2 linked regions of the Homo sapiens genome follow. The protein of the gene in region 1 interacts with the protein of each later gene in a biochemical or structural test. Each region holds a gene or a part of one and is shown on either strand. Other genes may lie near its edges.

Evidence for each region.
Region 2: the proteins of RP9 (region 1) and U2AF1 form a complex in vitro, tested with the Homo sapiens proteins (one study listed by BioGRID).

What each region holds. Positions count from the first base shown.
Region 1 is NC_000007.14:33,106,095-33,114,692, reverse strand, and holds the start of RP9 (retinitis pigmentosa 9 protein), read left to right. Parts: upstream 1-5,288; 5' UTR 5,289-5,320; coding exon 5,321-5,472; intron 5,473-8,598. UniProt on the Homo sapiens protein: Is thought to be a target protein for the PIM1 kinase. May play some roles in B-cell proliferation in association with PIM1.
Region 2 is NC_000021.9:43,097,214-43,105,116, reverse strand, and holds part of U2AF1 (splicing factor U2AF 35 kDa subunit), read left to right. Parts: intron 1-714; coding exon 715-802; intron 803-3,684; coding exon of another isoform or gene 3,685-3,751; intron 3,752-4,597; coding exon 4,598-4,664; intron 4,665-7,903. UniProt on the Homo sapiens protein: Plays a critical role in both constitutive and enhancer-dependent splicing by mediating protein-protein interactions and protein-RNA interactions required for accurate 3'-splice site selection. Recruits U2 snRNP to the branch point.

The sequences.
Region 1 (8,598 bases):
CGAGTGTAGGCACATCTCATCATAGTCCAGAGGCTGGGATTTTCCCCAAGGCAAGGCAGCTTTGGATCCATGCTTCTGACACCAAGTATGTTTAAGTCAAATATTATAGACAGATGAATCTCTAAGGTTAAAACGTTTTATTAGGGAAGCAATAATCACAATTCGGGGCATACACATAGACCAGGTGGTCTTTGGTATGTGAGATGAACAAAGAGAAGGTTGAAAGTTTTATCAGAAAGAGAAATGTTGACCAGGCATGGTGTCTCATGCATGTAATCCCAGAACTTTGGGAGGCTGAGGCGGGCAGATCACGAGGTCAGGAGATCCAGACCACCCTGGCTAATACGGTGAAACCCCGTCCCTACTAAAAACACAGAAAATGAGCCGGGCTTGGTAGCGGGTCGCCTGTAGTCCCAGCTACTCGGGAGGCTGAGGCAGGAGAATGGCGTGAACCTGGGAGGCAGAGCTTGCAGTGAGCCGAGATTGCGCCACTGCACTCCAGCCTGGGCAACAGAGCAAGACTCCATCTCAAAAAAATAAAAATAAATAAATAATTAAAAAATAAATAAATAAGAAAGAAAGACAAATGTTATGTAGTGTTTTGAAAGAAATCTCAGGCCGGGCGTGGTGGCTCACATCTGTAATCCCAGCACTTTGGGAGCCTGAGGCAGGCGGATCACGAGGTCAGGAGTTCAAGACCAGCCTGGCCAACATGGTAAAACCCCATCTCTACAAAAAACACAAAAATTAGCTGGGCATGGTGACACGCGCCTGTAGTCCCAGCTACTCGGGAGGCTGGGGCAAGAGAATCACTTTAACCCAAGAGGCAGAGGTTGCAGTGAGCCAAGATTGCGCCACTGCACTCCAGCCTGGTGACAGAGTGAGACTCTGTCAAAAAAAGGAAAGGAAGGAAAGAAAGGAGAGAGAAAGGGAGGGAGAGAGGGAGAGAAGGAGGGAGGCAGGAAGGAAGGAAGGAAGGAAGCTCATTGGCACTAAACAAGCTTTTGGGAGCCGGCAAGCTCTGATAGACGAGTGACTGCAGCAGTTAAAACCAGTCGCAGAGCCAGGGCAGGCCGTTTCAGCAGCTACCAGGTAAAACTGATCTTAGAGTTACAGCAGTCCATTTTAGCGGCTGGGCTTCTGGAAAATTTAATTCTTGGAGCAGGTCCTGTGACCACAAGTGCTTTTCCCCCCTGACCCCTTGATTCTCTTTTACTTGAGTATGACAAAAATTACCCAATTTGTATAACTAACTTTCACACAAACGTGAGACAGGGACTAGAAGGAATGAAAGGTTATCGGAATAAGAAAAAGAGGGGAAATGAGAGAGAAAGATGGCAGGGAGAGAAAAACAAGATAACAATCAGTGAGAGAATGCAGAGGCAGGGACCAGAAAATGTGGTAAAATCAGACAGAAGGACACAATGAGAGGAACAGCAAAATCTGAGGCCAAGGTGGGCATGGGAAGCAGCATGGAAGAGCGGGGAGAAAGGGATCTGAAAAAAGGACTGGTCTGAATCAAAGTCAGTAAACCAGGTTCTGTCAAATGCCCCTCAGACAGTACAGGAACCTCAAGTGTTAATGGTAAAATCCAACGTAATCCACTAAGGCCAGGCCCTAAAAAAAAGGTTTCCACCTTTCATTGAGTCTGAAATAAAGGCAGTTTTGTGAATCAGAAAACTACTGTGGTTTTGAGAACAGTAAACCCTGGAGGCTAAGCTATGCCAGTTGTTAACTTTTGCTTGGCACACACAGGATGGCTAAAGAAATGACCAGCCTTAGTCAGATCAGTTGAGGTCAGGAGTTCGAGACTAGCCTGGCCAACATGGTGAAACCCCGTCTCTGCTAAAAATACAAAAATTAGCCCAGCGTGGTGGCGCACGCCTGTGGTCCCAGCTACCTGAAAGGCTGAGACACGAGAGTCCCTTGAACCTGGGAGGCGGAGGTTGCAGTGAGCAGAGATCGTACCACTGCACTCCAGCCTGGCCAATAGAGTGAGACCCTGTCTCAAAAAAATGAAGGGAAGGGGAGGGGAGGGGAGGGAAAAGGCCAGCTGAGGAAAAATACCTCCTCACCCCCATCAACATAGCAGGGCCCCATCTGTATTGTTTTTAATTATTAAATAAATAAATTGAATGAAAAAACATCCCCAAAAGTCCATCTGAGCCGATTTGAGGCCAATGGGACATCAGGGAAATTTGTTTCCAGCAGCTTCCTATCCTCTTCTTTACCAAGAGATTCTCCAAGGGTTTCCAAGAGATTCTCCCACTCCCACTATTCCCACACACCTAAATTCATGAGGGTTGATGAAAAACTCTGGACTAGAAATCAGACCATTTTGGTTGCAGGGCCACACTCTCCTTCTGAGCCTCAATTTCCTTATCTTACATTGTCTTGCATGCCCCCATAGGGTTTCTGTAAAATCAACTGGGAGAACATATGGGGGCAGGGGGAGATCTGCATGGCACTATATAAATGTAAAGAATCATATTTATCTGTGAGTAATAGAAGACCCAACTCAAAATCACTTCAATAATAAAGAAATGTACTATCTCCCAGAATGAGAAGTATGGATAGGTAGCAACACCAGGACTGGTTGATCAAATGTCTCTATCACATCCCCAAGGACCCAGGGGTCTCCTTCTGTCCTCTGCCATCCTCTGGGGGTTGCAGGCAACAACATCTGGAGGCAGAAAGGGGATCTTTGACACTCCCAAGCATCATTTATTAAGAGCAAAGACAACCTTACCCTGAAAGCCACCTCCATCCGACCTCTCCTCATACCTCATTGGCTAAAATTGCACCACAGGTCCATTGCTAAAACAATCAGTGGAAACGAGAACAAAATTACTAATGACTGGCTTAAGACAAGTCAAGACTCACCTCTAGAGAGGCATGAAGAGGCCTCCACTCTCTAACCAGCTTCCTGTATGATTCCTGAACAAAATCAAAGCTGGTAGCAAGGAAGAGAAGGAGAAATGTCAACTCAGTTGCCAAATATTTGCCCCAGAATACCAATTAAGTTTGGTGTCTGACCTTCCTCCCTCAGTCTTTCGTACCTGCAAGCCTAAAGTAAAGCACGTTGCAATTTTCCCTCCGATCCTACTGGTTAGCAACTATTGATGGATAGAAATAATTTTTCTTTTTTTGAGACAGGGGCTCACTCTGTCACTCAGGCTGGAGTGCAGTGACACGATCATGGCTCACTGTAGCCTCCACCTCCTGGGTTCATGCAATCCTCCCACCTAAGCTCCACAAATACCTAGGACAACAGGCACAAGCCACCATGCCTGGCCCTAGAAGTAATTTTAACAGCTGTTTTTAGTGCATGACCAAAGGGATTCTCATGTTTCTACTGCGCTGCAGAAGACCATAGACATGCACGCCTGAGGGTCCACTTCACCATGAGAGTTCCTTGAAGACTTGTATTTTGGGTAGGAAAAAAAGAAAGATTTTGCATTGTACTCTCTAATCTAGCCATGTGATCTTTCCCTTCTCCTACTTTTTTCCTCTCCTCATCTCCCCAGTGGGGAAAGGTCACTGGTAAGATAAGAGCTTGTAAAAATACACCTTAGCAGCAAAACAATGGTGTCAAGATTACACTGTGAAGGGTGATCAATACAAGCAGGAGAAAATCTATTCTTTTTTTAGTTGCTCCATTCTGAAAGGTTTAAAACCTGTCCAGTAGCACAGACTAAGGACCAACTGCAGCTGCCCCACCAGTGGGCCAACACCAAGGCTGCTTGACTGGCCTCAAGAATGAATCTCTGGTGTCTTAGGAGGGGGCAGAAGAATAAAATGAAAAACAGAGGGGTTCATGGACAGGAGGGTACAACAGAAAGAAAGCACAAAGAGAAGTCAGAGAATATCAAATCACAAAATAATTTCATAGTCAGGTGCAGTGATTCCCACCTGTAATCCCAGTGTTTTGGGAGGCTATGGCAGGAGGATTGCTTGAGGCCAGGAGTTCAAGGCCAGCCTAAGCAGCATAGCGAGACCCCGTCTCTACAAAATAAAAAACTTTAAAAAGTTAAAAAGAATTTTGGAAAGAGCAGTATCACATAGAAAATTAATGAGACTGTATCATCGAGGAGAGCCATGTCCTAAAAGAAAAAAAAAAAAGCTATTCATCATGATGCAAGACTTCAAAATATGTTAATCATCATAAAAGTTGGGCAGTTCATGTGGACAATCGCCATGCAATTGCCCATAATCTATCCCTGCAATACACTTTTTCTATGTTGAATTTTCTTTTTAGTTTGCTTTCGTTTTTCTATTTTCTCTTTTAGCTTTTTCATTATTGTAAATTGTCAGCATTATGTTTTACAATTCACTATGCTATGTATTACATCTTAACATCATTTCTAATACTGGAGGCATCAACTATATAAAGACTTTTAGAGAGTTCAAATTTGTTTTATGCATTTTTTGCAAATATGACTCAATCAAAGCTCATTATTACAATGGTGACTGTGTAAGCATTCTACATATATGCAAAAATGTAGAAATTTCCTCGATAAATAAATAAGTGTCTTTTCTGTACATCTGCATTTGTGAAAGATGAAATTTCTCAGGATCTTGGCTCCTCGGGTGACTGGCACAGTGGTGACGTCATGGTGACCCATCCTGTCAAAAGAGTTAGGTTGTCTCTCATGGTATATCAGATGACCGCAGTTATAAAGCTGGGTGCACACTATTACCGAACATAATTATATGTTTATACATTTCACTTTTTGAACACTTTTTTTTTTTTTTTTCTGAGAGACAATCTCGCTTTTTCGCCCAGACTGGAGTGCAGGGGCACCATCTCGGCTCACTGCAACCTCTGCCTCCTGGGTTCAAGCAATTCTCCTGCCTCAGCCACCCAAGTAGCTGGGACTACTGGCGCCCGCCACCACGCCTGGCTAATTTGAACATTTTTTTATGAATACATTTCATCTGCTCATCCCTATGTGACTGTTGCTAGTATACCTGAGGTGGGTGTGGCCGGGCGGGAACCTCCAGGCTCCCAACTAGCGCCTCGCCCCGCTTCGGCTCCAGCTAGGCGGCGCTCCCCACCCACCCGCAGCAGCCCGCCTGGCGGCTGGGCCCGAGACCCGGAGCCCCTGACTTGGGGCCCGACGCGGGGAGGCGGGGATCGGGTGGCCGAGGCTGAGACTTCGGGGCCGCCGGGGTGAGTTGCGGGGCGGCGGCGGGAGGGGGCGCTGCGAAGCCCCGCGACCGCCGCGCGGAGGAAGTGCTCTCTTGGCTGCCGCCGCCGCCGCCGCCGCCGCCGGAGCCGCGCCGCGGGGGTTGCCCGAGCGGCGCTGCGGGGGCTGACATGTCGTCCCGGCCTGGGCGCGAGGACGTGGGGGCTGCGGGCGCGCGGCGGCCGCGTGAGCCGCCGGAGCAGGAGCTGCAGCGACGTCGGGAGCAGAAGCGGCGGCGACACGACGCGCAGCAGCTGCAGCAGCTCAAGCACCTGGAGTCCTTGTGAGTCCCGAGCTGCCGTCCGCGCGCGGCCAGTCTTCTGAAGCCAGGGGCCCGGGGCGCGGGACGCCGCGGTGGGCGCTAGGCCGGGTCCTCCGAGCCCCCGCGAGCAGGCAGGGGGGCTGGGCCCGGCAGGAGCCTGGTGCGGGCGACCGATGTCGGGCGCCGCGGTCAAGGACTTGAAGTCCATCCTCCTGGCGGGGCGTTCAGGGAGCCAACTGCCGCTCGGCACCAAGCAGAATCTGACTTGGGAGGCCCTGCGCTTCCCTAGCTCCAGGGGGTTCCAGGAGAGTCCAAATGACCCGGGAGAGTGTGGTGTAAAGAAGATTCAAATGTAGGGGAAGGAAATATGGTTTCCCTCTACCCTTCTAAGTTCTTAAGCTGGGCCACAAATTAAATTGTCATAAGACAGATTAACAGGAGAAAAACTTTTAATTATGTACCCGTGCACTAGAGGGCCACAAAAGTGGGAGACAAAGAAGGGCCAGGGAATAGGGGCGTGGGCCTTTTGGGGCGTGGTGGAGACCTTTTGGAAGGGTGATGGGGGAAATGTATGGTGAATAAAGGTTGCTTTGTTATCCCGATGAGGCGCTCAGGCGATAAAAGTTGCCCCCAAGCAGCTGTCTTCCTGATACAGATACATTTACTACAGAAAATTTCCTTTATAGGTGTAAATTTCTGTTTACAACAGGCGAGTCGAAAAATAATAAGAACAAAAGGAAAAAAAGCAGTCATACTTTATTTTAGGCAGTTGAGGGGTAGCTGAATAAGTTATCCTGTGTTGTTTGGTTCTGTTACTTATAGCTCAAAGTCATCAATATGCCAGGGTGGCATGTTTGGGGATGGTGCATTCTTGTCTTTTGCAGTCATTTATCAGGGTGGCGTTTCCTAAATTCTAACACAGACCTCGAGTGGAAAGTTCAGGCAGCAACTCTTTCAGTTCTTGTCCGTGATTCTATAATTAGCTGCATAAAACAACCTTTTCTAAGTGTGGCATTCACTCAGTTATTCAAGAATTCGTTTCTGTTTTAGCCACTTCTAGTTACCTGTGCTAAGTAGGTGTTAAGTATAGCCTAACGCTGCCTCCTTGAATATTTTAAGTTTAGCCTAAAAGTTTCTCTGTACTTAGTGAACTGTAACCTAAGTAGATGTGTAAACAGACTGTAACCTACTGTTATAAGTACCTGAGTCTCAGACAATCACAGCAGCTGATTTTCAGGCCGTCACAGGTGGTCAGCCTTTGAAACCCTGTTCAAAGAAGGCAAACGCCAGGCTGTATGGAATCCAGCTATTTCTCTACCTCATTTGCTTTTCTGTACATCACTTTCCTTTTCCTGTCCATAAATGTTATCCCACCAGGTGGCAGCCTGAGAATTGCTCTGGACCTATTCTGGTTATGGGGGTGCCCTCTTTGAAAACAGTTCTTTGCTCAAGTAGAGTTTAATTTGTCTACTTTTAAAAAACATAATTCATATAAGAAAAGTTCCTCAAAGAATTAAAATCCTTTTTATAATTAACCTTCTGGGAGGTTTGATGTGAGATAAATTCCTATGTTGGGACCTGGCCTGCTCTTTTTCCAGTGTGGCCCGCTCTGAACGACTTTTCCCCTTAGCAGGGCAGGGGATGCAGGATAGAGACCCTGCATTGTGGGCATCCATGTTACAGGGCAGTCCTGGCCCTTTCAAGTCACTGTGTGGCGCTCTTGGTCTCCCAGGGAAGTCAGGTGTTCAAAGATCTTCCCCTAGCGTAAGCATCAGAATGCCTGGCCCTGCCCAGCCCTCAATATATTTAGCTATAGAATGCTAGAGGATGGTTAATTCCACTTATTTGTAGCTCAGAGAGCTTTTTCACAGATGAGAGAGATTATAACCTACTTTTACAGATGAAAAAATGGAGGAACAGTGGTTAAGTCATGTGATCAAGCATACATTGACCAGTTAGTTAACCAGCAAATCTAGAGCTGAACCCAGGTGTCTGATTGACTGGTGGGATTTTTCCAGTTTCTGAGATTTAAAACTGAATGAGCCGTTGAGACATTTGCTTTGGCCAGTTCAGAATCTTGTTTGAGCTTTAAATTGTATTTATACCACAGTAATATGTAGTTTTAAAATTCAAATAGTACTAAAAGTGCTACCAAAAAATAGCAATAGGCTGCCCAACTCCTCAGTAACCACTCATATTCCCTGTGTCCCTCTTCCCCCTCCCAAACCAGGCTTCTCTGTGTAAACTTTTAGGTTTTACTTCTGGGATTTAACTGTTTGGTTTTTGTTTTTTTTTTTTGAGATGGAGTCTCGCTCTGTCACCCAGGCTGGAGTGCAGTGGTGCAATCTTGGCTCACTGCAGCCTCCACTTCCTGGGTTCAAGCGATTCTCCTGTCTCTGCCTCCCAAGTACCTGGGACTACAGGTGTGCATCACCATGCCCAGCTAATTTTTATATTTTTAGTAGAGATGGGGCTTCACCATGTTGGCCAGGATGGTCTCGATCTCTTGACATAGTGGTCTGCCCACCTCAGCCTCCCAAAGTGCTGGGATTATAGGCGTGAGCCGCTGCGCCCACCAACTGTATATTCCTAAATTGTATATTTATACTGTTTACATCAATTCAACATCTTAGACATACCTCTTAACTTCTTGTCACAGTAAGGATTTAGTTCTTTACCTACCCTTCTTGTTTCCAATCTTCCAGTATAGTTCCATCATAGCAATTTTTGCTAAACGAATGCTTAGTATTAACATTATTATAACTAGGCTGGGCTCTGTGGCTCACGCCTATAATCCCAGCATTTTGGGAGGTAGAGGTGGGAAGATCGCTTGAGGCCAGAAGTTCTAGACCAGCCTGGGCAGCATTTATAGACCTTATCTCTGCAAGAAAGAAGGAAAAAAGAAATTAACCAGGCATGGTGGTACATGCCTGTGGTTCCAGCTACTTGGGAGGCTGAAGTGGGAAGATCTGCTTGAGCCTGGGAGGTTGAGGCTGCAGTAAGCCATGGCTGCACTCCAGGACTCCAGCCTGGGCAACAGAGTGATATCCTGTCTCAAAAACAAACAAACAAAAAAAAAACAGCAATATAACTATGAATTATTACTCACTTTGAGCCAGGTAGTGTACTCTGATTTATTTTGCTTTC
Region 2 (7,903 bases), on another chromosome or scaffold:
GTGGGTTCGGTCAGTCCCCTAATAGTTTGTTTTCAGTGTATTGAGACCAGGAGAATTGATTTACTTCAGACCTATTTTTTGAAACTCCCTGTTGGTCTGGTGTCATGCGTTTAGAGAGACTCTGAACTTCGTTTTCTGTTTTCCTTAGATAATGATAGCACTTCATGAGCACCATATGTGAAGCACACATACGTTCTGTCTGACTCTCAGAACAGTGCCACATTGGCATTGTCATCATTTACAGATGACATCTGAGAGCTAGGGTGACTTGCCCAAGCCCAAGCAGCTGGTAGCAGAGTTGGGATCTTAACCCTCACCACACCGGTGTTTTCAAGAGAGAACTTGGTCGTGGAGAACTGGAGAACAGATACTGCCTAAGTTACATTTAGTTTTAGACTAATTTAATACTCCATTTAAGAAACAAACAGAACAGCTGTGCAGTTAGGAAAGTGGAGGGGATTTGAATGAGGAGGAGGCGGGTTAGAGTTAGAACCGTCTTTGCTGAACAAGTAGTGTGTTTGCAGAAAGGGAAGTTGAAGTTACGTTGTCCTAAAATACAGCAAGGAAGAGGAGGTGCTTAATACCACGGAAAAAAGTCTGTGTCATGTTTCTGTGAGGTTAAAAGTAATTTGATAGTGTATGTCATGCTGCTGACATATTCCATGTGTTTGATATCTTCCCAGCAAAATAATCAGCTCTCATTTTCCCTTACAGAGTCAACTGTTCATTTTATTTCAAAATTGGAGCATGTCGTCATGGAGACAGGTGCTCTCGGTTGCACAATAAACCGACGTTTAGCCAGGTTTGTTTGCCTTTTTTTCATGTAAATTATAAAAACTTCATGTTCTTTTCAAAGACAGTTAATTTCTACATATTAAGCAAGTCATTTTTTCTCTCGTAGTTGTATTTTCCATTTGTGTTCATAAGTGTGTTCTTTTATTTAAATAATAGTGAGGCAGGTGATCGACTTCCAGTGGAAGGTCTGAGACCACCACTCCTTGTTTTTATCATTAGAGAAACTTTAAAAATCAGTTTTTGATGTTTGTGTGTTGGCTGTGCCTGATATTTGCTGCCCTGCCATCTTCCCTACCCCCTCTGATAGACATGGGTCCAGAGGGGGTGGCCGTGCCAGCCTTGGGTTAGCCTCCTCCAGGCACCAGTGGACACGGAGTGGGCTTTCTGCTCTTTGCTGTCTCCAGACAGTAGAGGTGATGGAGCCACCTTCCAAGTTAGCGTGATTGTCACCAGGCCCATCATGCTGCTCGAGCTTCTCTGGCTGCGTCCTCACTTTCACATCCCTAGCTGAGGAAACAGCGAGTCGCATCACGTCATGGAAACATGAAAAATTAAGCTGAAAGGTAGAAAATGGGCCGTAAATTGCTCTTAGCGGGTCTGTTTGGTTAATTGAGGAGTGCCTGTTATCTTGGGCTTAGATCCGCTCTGAGTTCAGTTCAATCAAAAGTTGTGAGTTTTGATAGTTTTATTTTTGGTTAGTTGAAGAAAAGGCAAAGGTTGGTACACTATAAAGGATCACTTACGGATTAAAGGGAGAAGGCACCTCTAATCGGAGCAGAAAACTTGTGCCCACGTTGATGAGAACATTTGAAATTTGAAAATCGATGCCCAAGTCTTTCCAGATGGAGGGCTGGGGAACTCCTTCCAACCCACCCTTGAAGTCTAAATGTGCAGCCTCTGAGCTGTTGAGTAGCTATTATGCGTGGTCCCTGGGAGCTGCCAGGCTCTGCCTTTGAGCTCACATCTGTCTGTATACGTTTTCCTGTAAGCATTTAAGAAAATCTACCACTTTGTGTAAGTGAGCTGGGAGAAGGAAACATGGGTTTTTTCCGGTTGAAGCCCATGGACGACCCCACAGCACACAGTGTTTTTAGAAGGGAAGAGGATGATGGCTTTTCCCTCCATTATGCTAATTACCAAGTGGTTAGTATAATAGCAGTCTGTCTTTTGATAGCTCTGAACATGAGTTTCTTTTTACAAATTTCAAAATCTTGGAGAACTAGCTTTACATTTTCTGTGTATTGCAATTGTTTTTTCTTTAATGTTTTGATTTATGAACCGAATCTCCCCTAACTAAACCAGTGGCCATGGATTGTGGTATAACCAAGCATCTTAAGTGACCACCCAGTTCTTTGATTTTGGGGGGTGTCCCAAGTGTTGGGCTGAGAGAAATCAACTGTTCCCTATTCTAAAAGTTTTCTTTAATCTGGCTGGAGGCACTTTCTTTATGTTTTTCTGGATCATAGATTACCTGAGAATGTGAAATGTGAAGTTAATTTAGGCATTCCAGGTCAGTGCTGGGGAGAGCCCATTGGAGCTCGATGGGGTCAGTAGTATGTGTCAGCTTAAGCATCCTAGTTTGATGCGTGGGTTTGTTTTGGTTGGTTTTAGGCAATCCTAGCCACCCTTGGCTTTCCCATTAGACTGCATTGCCTCTTTACGTTAAGCTTCCTTCATTAAATAGCCACTGCCAGAATACCTGAGTGAGACCAACTGAATTTTACTGTTGAATAATTGGGCTCAGTTTAGCTTTTCATCAGGGTTGTCATGGTACGGTCATTTCAGTTCAAAGCTGAGTCAAGTCAGCTTTGGGAAGCCTCCCAGGCCTGAGTTCAGTTGACTCAGGGCTGTACTTGGCGGCTTATGGAAGAAACGGGGCCCTGATGCAGGTCTGAGTGGTTCAGTGTGGACAGTTTGTCAGACCTCCCTCTTAGGTGGGGTGGGCTTCCCAGCTGCACACCTTTGACTGAGGAACTCTTCATACAACCACTCCCCTTTAAACAGAGCTAGAAATGGAGCTGGCTGGTTTTATAAAACCACCACTTACAAAACTGCTTCACGTGGATATTGTTGAGACTAAACATTTATTTTTCTAAATCATGCGAGTGATTGCTTTAGCTTGTAAATCTCTAGCATAATTCAGGGTGGGTTTCTTTATAAGCTGCTTACAGTGATATGGACGTTAAGATTCATGTAATATATTAGCCTACTAACTTAAACATGGTTTGTTTTTTCAGACAACTTGATTTTAAGAAGAACGGTACAGTGTAAGGTTTCAAGTCTGCCTGATCCAGTTTAAAGCACAAGGGCTAAAAGGATTTTTTTTCCTTAAAAGAAGGATCGGAAAAGAGCAAATGTTTTAAGCTATTGTATTATGTAAACAGAGATCCCACCAAGAAAGTGTAAATCAGAGCCGGGTGTCCATGACAGTTGACAGACCTGTTTGGTGTGCCTGTTTTGCTAGGAGACCAGAGAACTTGATGTACTGCAGACAGCTGAGTTACGCATTTGGTTTTGAAAAATTATCTTGTGTGAGGAATATGATTATAACGTGAATTTTTCCACATCTTGGTGTCTGCTAGCTTGAAGTACAAGAAAATATTAGTATTCTACTATTTATCTTGCATTAAAACACTTTAACATTGAAAACGTGGGACTAATCAAAACAATACAGTTTCTTCTTGGTTGCTGGCTGACTTGACCCAAGTCACTGCTCAAACTCTGTTTTCATAATATGATGGTTTTGGTGTACTCTTCAGAAGACAAATGTCTGACTTGCGGGAAAAAAACAAACGTTTAGCCATTTGCAAACAAATTGTCTCTTTGCAATTGTCTAATATATGCACAGCAGCCAGTAGAATTCCCCTTTTTATTTTTTTTTCCCCGCAGACCATCTTGATTCAAAACATCTATCGTAATCCCCAAAACAGTGCACAGACGGCTGACGGCTCACACTGTAAGTCCCACAGTTGGAGAAATTTTTTTAAAACAATGGTGTTAAAGAGCCCACTCTTAATTGAGACAAATAATGTTGGCTTCTGAGCTGCTGACATAGAGCTGTTGCAAACAGGACAAGGTGCTGGAACTCCTTGGCGCACACAGCAAGAACTTGATACTTGGCCACGTTCAGGAGGCTTATCCCTTCTAGGGAGGGTCACTGGCCCGGCCACCTCCATTGATTGACATTTGTCATGAGAGCAGGTCCGTCCATGTGAAACGGATTTCAACATTTTGAGCCATTCATTGGTCTTTACAGTGACTGAACCCCTGGCCTTTATTAAGTTCTTTGTGTAAAATTAAAACTCTTAGGAATATTAAGGAATCAATAAGGTAAGTTGCCCAGTAAGTGTGGGTTTTATTTCACCATTATAATTTTTCCTCCAGGAAGTGGAGATTTCATGATATGTAACAATTGTATTTCTCTAATACAGTAATTTTTTCCATCAGTTTATGTAAGCATTATTCTTTCCGAGTTCATTAAAAATTTTCTGCCACATCTAAGAACATTTTGGTGCTAGCCTGGCAAACTATTTGTGCTTTTACCTGAATTGGAATTTTGAAAAGGAGAGTTTTCACGTTCTGTAAGCAGAAGTACAAGATGGGCATATCATGAGACCTCCGTTACACCGCAGTGTTAGGGATTCAAGGCAGCCGCCAACTGAGAAAACGCCTCTGCTTCTCCAGAAAATAACTTGCTCTCTTTTCAGCACTGAATCTCAACTGAAGCACTTGCCAGAGGCAGCCGGTTAAGTGTTTACCTTTAATTTTCCATAATATAAAGTTGTTGCGTTTTGTATTTCAGACCATTGCCCTCTTGAACATTTACCGTAACCCTCAAAACTCTTCCCAGTCTGCTGACGGTTTGCGCTGTAAGTTCATACAAGTTCCTTCCCCGGTTCCCTGGGCTTGCGTGTCAGAGCTCAGTGTCCACTCCATCTGGTCTGCCGTGCTAGTGTCAAGGACCGCGTTTCACTAGAGGTGGCAAGGAGCTTTCGTCCCACTGACCCCATGGAAACCTCTTTTGGAGATTTGAACTCCCACCGTGTGTTAAAAGGGAAAAAGTAACTGGAAAGGGTGCCCTTTAAAACAGTCTAGAGCTGGGCCGGGCGCGGTGGCTCACGCCTGTAATCCCAGCACTTTGGGAGGCCGAGGCGGGTGGATCATGAGGTCAGGAGTTCAAGACCAATCTGGCCAACATGGTGAAACCCCATCTCTACTAAAGATACAAAAATTAGCTGGGCGTGGTGGCAGATGCCTGCAATCCCAGCTTCTAGGGAGGCTGAGGCAGAGAATCGCTTGAACCCGGGAGGCGGAGGTTGCAGTGAACTGAGATCGTGCCGCTGCACTCCAGCCTGGGCGACAGAGTGAGACTCCGTCTCCAAAAAAAAAAAAAAAAACAGTCTGGAGCTGCTGCTGCCCCTTCTTCCTTTACTTTGGCCGTCATCCTAGAGGGAATGTACTGGAATTAAACGTCGAGTCATATTCTTCCCTCTTAGAGCAACAAAATTTGAATGTTTCTCTCACTTTCTGGAATTTTTAAAAAGCAAACTTTTTAAGTTATTTTTTCAGATTTTATTTCTCATTAGCCTTTTTTCCTTGAACTCCATTTTGGAGTGCACCCTGTAGTTGTAAGAGCATTGTGCTGAGAGCGTTCCCCAAATGAGGGTCTGCAGCTTGCACTGACCCCTGAGTTCCTCACCCACCAGCCCCGTGCCGACCCGTCTAACCCGTGTGGGGGTGCTCCACTCAAATAGGCCCTTGGCAGAAAAGATTGTCCGTTCTGTCCACACACTGCCTGGATACAGTCTCCAGCTCTAGGAGATGGAATTGGTTTGCTCCATTTAGAAATAGATCAAAACTGGGCATTCAGTAGATGGTACCAATATCTTCCTGTACTGGGAAATACTAAATTTAGATTGTGAATATTTACCTAATGATAATTTTTAGAGAAGGAGATATCATAGATGAGTATGATTGGGAAGTTCAGAAAACTAAAATTTGATTTTTACAGCCATCCAACTATAGAATCATTAGAATTTAGTCATTTATGGATAAATTAAAATGAACACCTGGACTCTTGTTAAAATCAGAAAGTCCAAACCAAAGATAGGCACTTCCCATTCACCATTCTGTTTTAAAGCAGTAAAAATTGAGGTGCCCTTGGATATCCACAAGCCTAAATTGAGTACACCCTTGAACCAGAGCCCCTCAGTTAATGGGGTGACCGACATGGGGTAGCTGATCCCAGGGGGCATTCCCCTCTCGAGCTGGCCCTGCACTGGGTGGCCTGGGGATTGTGCTTCCTTGCACAGTGGTGCACATTTCTATGTGTGGATGAGATTTTCTTGTCAACTTTTCCTGCCAAGACACTAAATGCTTTTCAGTGCTAATACTGACCTGATAGTAGAGATTTCTTTCCCTGAGTCGGATGGTAGCAGGATTTACTTGGTAACCCTTGGTTTAAAATACCTGTTTTTTTGTTTGTTTGTTTTCTTTTGTTTTTTAAGGAAATAAGATCAATAGGCGGAGGGAAATTGTTTCTATATGCACTTATTAAATAATTTTTGTTAACAACCCTGCCCTGGGATAAAAGTGAATGGAAGTACATGACTGAGTAACAGTAATTAATTCTTTGCCCTGATCGTTTATTTGGGGACTGTATATGCTTTCTTGACTGACAATAGAATGTTGTATTAGTTTTCATTGTGTCTTTATTTGCAGTTCACAGCACTTTTGTTTTGCATATGCTACAAACTAAAAGTTTAGCAATTACGTTATATTCCAATTCTGGAGTCCAGATTGTACAAATTAGATGAAATTCTAATTCGTCATTTTAGGAAGAAATCAATTACCTAAAATTACTGGCTCTTTTCAACATACCCTTTAGTATGTAAAAAAATAAGCTTCAAATGCGTGGGTTAAAGTTAACTATCAATCCCAGTTTAAGAATGATATTTCTGTAAGAAAACTGCTTTATTTTCCAAGTTGTAGTATTTAACATAGGCTGAGTCACAAATAAGTTTTTAATTGTATCTTAATGCAGTTGTCTCTGCCTTTCAAGTCACTTTGATTGAAACATTTTAAGCAGAACAAATATAGCCAATAATTTAAAATAATCACCCCAAAACCATTTCTCAAACCTGCTAAAACTTTGAGCATGTGAATAATTTTCTCCTCTTCACATTCTTCTTATGTGGGAAGGAAGTGAATTTGAAATATTAAAATCTGCCCTTTGGAATAGGCTACTTTGGCCGTTTATAACTTGATTTCTACTCGGGGAGGAAGGTACATTCCCAATAGCTTTCCAATTGGGATATCCTGTGATATGATTGGCAGGCTGTCCGAGTAGTTACACTTAATAAAATTTGGGTTCGAAAGCAGATTCCTGGAAGTTCAAAAATAACTAAAACAGCCCCGGATAGGTTAGAAAGTGAACTTAAATCATTCTCAGAATTAGAAAATAAGAAGTTATTTTTTATCTTCAAAGATAAAAAGGGGGCCGGGCACGGTGGCTCACGCCTGTAATCCCAGCACTTTGGAAAGCCGAGGCAAGTGGATCACGAGGTCGAGAGATTGAGACCATCCTGGCCAACATGGTGGAACCCCGTCTCTACTAAAACTACAAAAATTAGCCAAGATCACGCCATTGCACTCCAGCCTGGAGACAGTGAGACGCCGTCTCAAAAAAAAAAAAAAAAAAGATAAAAAGAGTTTTGAGCAAGCTCAAAGACCCGTGTGCCAGCAGTCAGATGCCCACGTTGGGTGCACAGGCTAAGGCAGCCGGCCCAATCTGGAAACCAGTCAGGCTTTTGCCAGCCCCTAATCTAGCTGATTGGAACATGTTTGTTGATACACCAGCTCTGTGATTTCTCAGGTTTAGAGAACTCTAGAATTTGATAGAGTGGGCCGGGGGCAGTGGCTCATGCCTGTAATCTCAGCACTTTGGGAGGCTGAGGTAAGCAGATCACGTGAGGTCAGGAGGTTGAGACCAGCCTGGCCAACATGGTGAAACCCCGTCTCTACTAAAAATACAAAAATTAGCCAGGCATGGTGGTGCGCGCCTGTAGTCCCACCTACTTGGGAGGCTGAGGAAGGAGAATTGCTTGAA